Regions from separate parts of the Homo sapiens genome. Here region 2 is linked to region 1. The links come from fine-mapping of genetic effects on gene expression. Tissue or cell type: lung. Region 1 holds a variant in brackets; the other region holds the start of a gene. All regions are shown on one strand. Distances are from middle to middle.

Region 1 (2,756 bases):
ACAGAGACATTCCGGCAGCCCCCAGGCAGGGAGAGCGGCAGCTGCTCTCCTTCTGGACCTGCACCCCACCCACCAGATCTTTCTCCAATCTGCCAATAAGAGAGGGCAGAGGGACAGGGCAAGAAGAGGCCAGGGCACTGCCCCAGTGCAGGTTAGATTGGGAAATGTGGAGCCAGGGCAAAGGAGACTCTTCACCCAACAGGCATTTTGGACGAAGCCACATGGACTCACAGACTTTTCATAGTCATTTTTCCTTATTCAGACAATAACACAGCATGCTAATAAGCTTGGAAAGTCAAGCAGTTCTTATTACCTTACCCGACTGTCTGTGGTGAGGCCACTGCTGTTGCACCTCGCAGCCAACCCCACTCGGTACCGTCACTGGGCACAGCCGTGGGGACCTCACTTTGCTCTCTAACTGCCATGCCCTGTGTGGCTGCAGGACCCTGGCACCCACAGGCCATCCTCATCTTGGGCTGGCTTGGGCCTTAGTTTAATCGGCTCATCATTGGGCCTTGCCTCTTTGGGCCTGGACCTAGGGACCTAAGGAAAAAGGGAACAGCACAAGTCTGTGGGGACCACAAAGACCCCCTGCTGTTCTTTGCAAAATCTTAAGCTGTGGAGAAAGACTCAGATCCATGAGTCCTCCCGGTGCCATTTTTCCAGCGTTCTGACCCCCATGTCTCGCCAGCCAAGCTCCCACCTCTGTCCCACTGACTTTCACTGAAATCTCAGCCTGGTCTGCCTGTCTCTACAATGGGAGGATGCAGGTTGGCCTATCTGTGGTATCTTCAGGCTGGGCTCTCAGCAGGCCCCCAGTCCCTAAGCCGCTGGCTCTAGGCTCTTTCCACCTGTCTGCAGCTCTGCACCCGGGACAGTGAGTGCTGTGGAGACCAGCTGTGTGTCTGGGGTCACTGCACCAAAATGGCCACCAGGGGCAGCAATGGGACCATCTGTGACAACCAGAGGGACTGCCAGCCGGGGCTGTGCTGTGCCTTCCAGAGAGGTGAGTGGCCTCCCCTCAGATGCAGGAAAAACCCTGTCCCAAGCTCCACCACACTGGA[C/T]CTCCTGGAGCCACGTCCATGCCAACCACATGGTTTCGCGTCCCACCTCTTGGATAGGCTCCCAAATGCTCATCAGTGTGTGCTGCACTCCCACAGCCTCTGCCCGGAGTGGGAAGACCACCTCTTTTTTTTCCCCTGTTGATGCTCAGAAAAGTTAAATGACTTCAGGATGCAAAAGCCCAGTCTGGAATGGGGTGGGACTAGCAGCCCCCTCCCTCCCACCACTCCTTATTTCCCAGGTTCCTCTACCTGTGAATCACCCGCTTCCACTCCCATCTTCCGTCCTGCCTCTCCCAGGTGAGGTCTGCTCAGGCTCTCTCCGCCCCCACTAGGGTTTTGAAAAATTCTCATTTGCCGCCTCCCCAGCTCTGCATCCCCAGCCCACTAGTCCTCCCTGTACCTGCCGCCTCCGTGATCTTCCTAAAGGGCTGCTTTTTGGGTGTTGCTCCCCTGGGACCTGCAGCAGCTCCTGTTGTCTCCCACGATGTTCAGACTCCTTAGGCTGTCTTGTGAGGCCTCATGCAGCTCCAACTTACTTGCCCTCCTTTTCTCTCCACTACTTCTTGGCCTATTTGGGAATTTCACCGGCCCTGACATTTTCCACTGAGCTCAACCCCAGGCCTTTGCTGGTGCTGTCCCTGTGCCTGAATGCCTTTGCCTCCCTCTTAATTTCTCCAGACTTTCTGGCCCTCAAAATCCAGCAGAAGCCCACCTCTTCCAGGCAGTCCTCCCTGCTTCAGCCCTACCAATCATTCCCTCCTGAGCCCAGGCTGCTATTCTTGTTTCCTGTCATTCCGTATCTTCAAAACTAGCCTGCACTTTGGGGTTGAGGGTGGGAGGTGGGAGGTTATGCTCCATTTCTTTGCCCCTCCCTTTGGAGCCCTTCTACCCTACACGGGGCACACAGGGGTGACTCTGGGCTGGTTCCAGGCCTGCTGTTCCCTGTGTGCACACCCCTGCCCGTGGAGGGCGAGCTTTGCCATGACCCCGCCAGCCGGCTTCTGGACCTCATCACCTGGGAGCTAGAGCCTGATGGAGCCTTGGACCGATGCCCTTGTGCCAGTGGCCTCCTCTGCCAGCCCCACAGGTGAGGCCCCCTAACCCTCACTCTCAGGGAGCCAAGGGCTGAGGAGGTGCCATCCAGCAGGGGCGTAGGAGCAGGAGCAGGTTTTCCCTGGGGGAGGTGTAGATTCCCTTTAGGATTGGTTTGAGAGGTCGTTGGGTCATGCAGATGGAAGGGTCCAATCAGCAGTCGGTTCTAGGGGTCTGGAGCCCAGGCTGCCCAGGAGGCACAGATCTGGGGCTCATCTAGCTGGTGGCTGAAGCTTCATGAGTGGATGGTCCATGGAGAGGACATGGAGGGAGAAAAGCCTGGGCTCCCTCCCCAGACCTGTCACAATGACAGATAAGCAGAGAAAAAGGAGCTGGCAGAGAGGCCACGGGGAGGCCAGGAGTGGCCACCAAGGTGGAGGGTGCAGCCCACACTGTCTGAGGCTGCTGAGACTCCATGAGGCATGAGGCTCAAGCCTGGCCAGCTTCTCAGGGCACATCTCCCTGTCCTCCCCGCAGCCTCTACTCAGTCTTCTCTCCCAACAGAATCCAGGGCTGCTGGGCAGACAGGCAGAACTCCCATTCCCCACGGCTCTGTGCAGTGGCTCACACCTGTAATCCCAGAGCTTTGGGAGGCCAATG
Region 2 (2,603 bases), 42 kb before region 1:
GCACGGTGTCAATCACGGCAGACTAAGGCCAGCGGTGATGGCTTGAATGCCAGGCTGGGGGCTGGGATTTTTCCTGAGGATTTCACAGGACAGAGGTTGGCTTGGAAAGACCAAGGTGGGACTGAGGAACATTCCCCCTACCCCCAACCTCGGTGGGCTGTTGCAAGCCTGGAGGCCAGAGAAGACGGGCCTGGGATGCCGCGGGCGCAGGGGCAGGCAGTGAAGGAGATGGCTGCCTTCGGTAGAGCTGGTCGCTGAGGCAGAAGAGGAGGGCGTGGGGCGTGGGGCGTGAGGTGGCCGGCGCCCCGGCTGGCCAATGGCCGGGCTGCGGCCCCTCCGCGGGGCGGGGTGGGCCTGGTGGGCGGGCGGGGCTCGGGGCGGGGGCGGAGAGGGAGCCTGGTGGGCGGGCGGGGCGCGTCTTGCGGGCTCCCTCGGGTACCGGCGCTGCCGCACCCCGCCGCGCTCCCGCACCCGCGGCCCGCCCACCGCGCCGCTCCCGCATCTGCACCCGCAGCCCGGCGGCCTCCCGGCGGGAGCGAGCAGATCCAGTCCGGCCCGCAGCGCAACTCGGTCCAGTCGGGGTGGGTGAGGGGCGGCGGCGGGGGAGGGGACGACTCTGCTGAGCTCAGCCTCTCTTGGTGGATGTGGGGCGGGGCGCTCGAGTAGGACCCGACGCCAAGGGGAGGGGGCTGACCTGTGCTTGGTCCACCCCAGGTAGGGGCTGAGAGAGGCTTGAGGTGGAAGTGGGGGTCGGGCACTCTGACCTGGTCGAGGAGGGGCTAGGGTTTGAACCGGGGACAGAGTCTAGGTGAGCTGGGGCTTGGGAGCTATTAGCGTAGAGGATCCGGGTTCGGTTGCTCTGGCGAGGGCTCCAGCATCACAGGTGAGGAGCAGAGCTCAGCTTGTGCTCGAGGATGGGGGTGCGGGGTCCTGGGGCGATCGGGGCTCGGGCTGGAGCGGGTGGGGTCGCGTCTTTTCGGGTGTAGGGGAGCTGCGTTTTCAGGGGCCTCGGTTTCCTCCCGTCTCCGGGCGGGTGCGGGAAAGAGGGGCGCCAGGGGCGGGCGGCGGGGCGGAACGGGGCGGGGCGGCGGGCCCAGCGAGGGGGGTGGTCCGCGCGCCTCTGATCGCGTTCCGGGACACACAGGCGGCGGCTGCGGGCGCAGAGCGGAGATGCAGCGGCTTGGGGCCACCCTGCTGTGCCTGCTGCTGGCGGCGGCGGTCCCCACGGCCCCCGCGCCCGCTCCGACGGCGACCTCGGCTCCAGTCAAGCCCGGCCCGGCTCTCAGCTACCCGCAGGAGGAGGCCACCCTCAATGAGATGTTCCGCGAGGTTGAGGAACTGATGGAGGACACGCAGCACAAATTGCGCAGCGCGGTGGAAGAGGTGGGTGCGCCCTGGCGGCGCGGGGCTCTGAGAAGCGCCAGACTGGGGGCAGCGAAGTCTGGGAAGGCATGGAAGAGCGCTGGCCAGGGACCTCGGGTCCCGCGCAGGGCCTGGGAAGGGCCGACAGCAGATGCGGAGTGACCTGGAGGCAGCGCACGGTGATCCCTACTCCCGCCTCGTTTTGCCTCCTTGCCAAAAAGTCTGGATCTGAGCCTGTCCACCGAGAGGCTCTGCACTGGACCCTCCCTAGGTAGCTGGGGCCACCACCTGCCTGCAGTTGGCGTCAGGCATGCCGTTGGCCTTCCCTATTGTCAGCAGAGGTTTGCAGGGCCCCTGGTATTCCAGCACTGTGGTTTCACAGAAACCCGGGACAAGCTCCAGGCATCGCCAAGTTCTAGCTTGTCCGTTATGCTTTGAGCTTGTTAGGATGCCATGCAGGGACAAAGAGGCAAAGAGCCCTGAGCTTTGCTGGCAGTCTGTCTGGGCTGTCTTGCTTCTCACGCAATGTGGGGGCAGAGAGGGAAGATGGAAATCCTAAATCTCAGCACTGTATGAGTGGCGGATGAGGATGTGAGAGGCAATACCCCCTCCACCCAACGGTGCTTCGCAGTTGTCCTGGGCTCAGGTCCTCCTCTGCCACTCAGTAGCAGGGTGACATTGGGCAAATCACTTAATATCCTGCACCTCAGTTTCCTGTGAAAACTAAATGTCATATGTGTGGGCACCTGGCAAATAATAGGTGCGCAGTATTTAGCAACTATTATCAGATACCACGTACCTTAGCAAAGCTTTGCCTAGCTTCTGCCCTCCATCACCTCCAGGTCTAAACACTGTGGGTGGCATCTTGTTCTGTCCTCTGTGATGGTCACCCACGCATGCCCAGGGCTACCTGGGCAGGAGATGTCACTGGCCCAGCCCTCTCTGTCCAGGTGCGGGGAGCTGTCCCTGGTGCCTGGGGTGGGTAGACGAGGGCGCTGTTGGGCCCAATCTGTCTGTAGCCTGTGTCTATAGAGAGGAGCCAGCCGTCCTAGTGAAGGAGGCAGCAGGAAACCAATGTCCAGGCTGGTTGGCCCCTGGTCTGGCTTCACATCCCTGCTGTCTCCAGCTTGGTATCCCCCTTGGGCAAAGCCTTAACTGCTGGCCCTTGTCTCCAGGGGGAAGTTGCTTTCTCCCCGCAGCCCTTTGTAGTTTGGGGCTATTTCCCCTCCCACTCCACAACA

The links. PIP is the estimated chance that this variant, and not a neighbour inherited with it, causes the effect.
Region 2: it holds the start of DKK3, and the variant in region 1 is fine-mapped to the expression of DKK3 in lung (TOPMed, PIP above 0.99).

Annotation. Positions count from the first base shown.
Region 1 is chr11:11,965,204-11,967,959 of GRCh38, reverse strand. DKK3 (dickkopf Wnt signaling pathway inhibitor 3) reads left to right here. Exons shown (of 7, transcript NM_001018057.2): 5 at 862-1,006; 6 at 1,995-2,151. Among named protein-coding and RNA genes, the nearest start is that of DKK3, 42 kb to the left of the region's middle. RefSeq lists an enhancer at 1-95 and a silencer at 938-987. The variant C/T (reference allele first, on the strand shown) is at 1,065.
Region 2 is chr11:12,007,150-12,009,752 of GRCh38, reverse strand. It overlaps DKK3 (dickkopf Wnt signaling pathway inhibitor 3), which reads left to right and starts at 1,127. Exons shown (of 7, transcript NM_001018057.2): 1 at 1,127-1,383. The coding sequence starts at 1,171. RefSeq lists an enhancer at 1,940-2,603.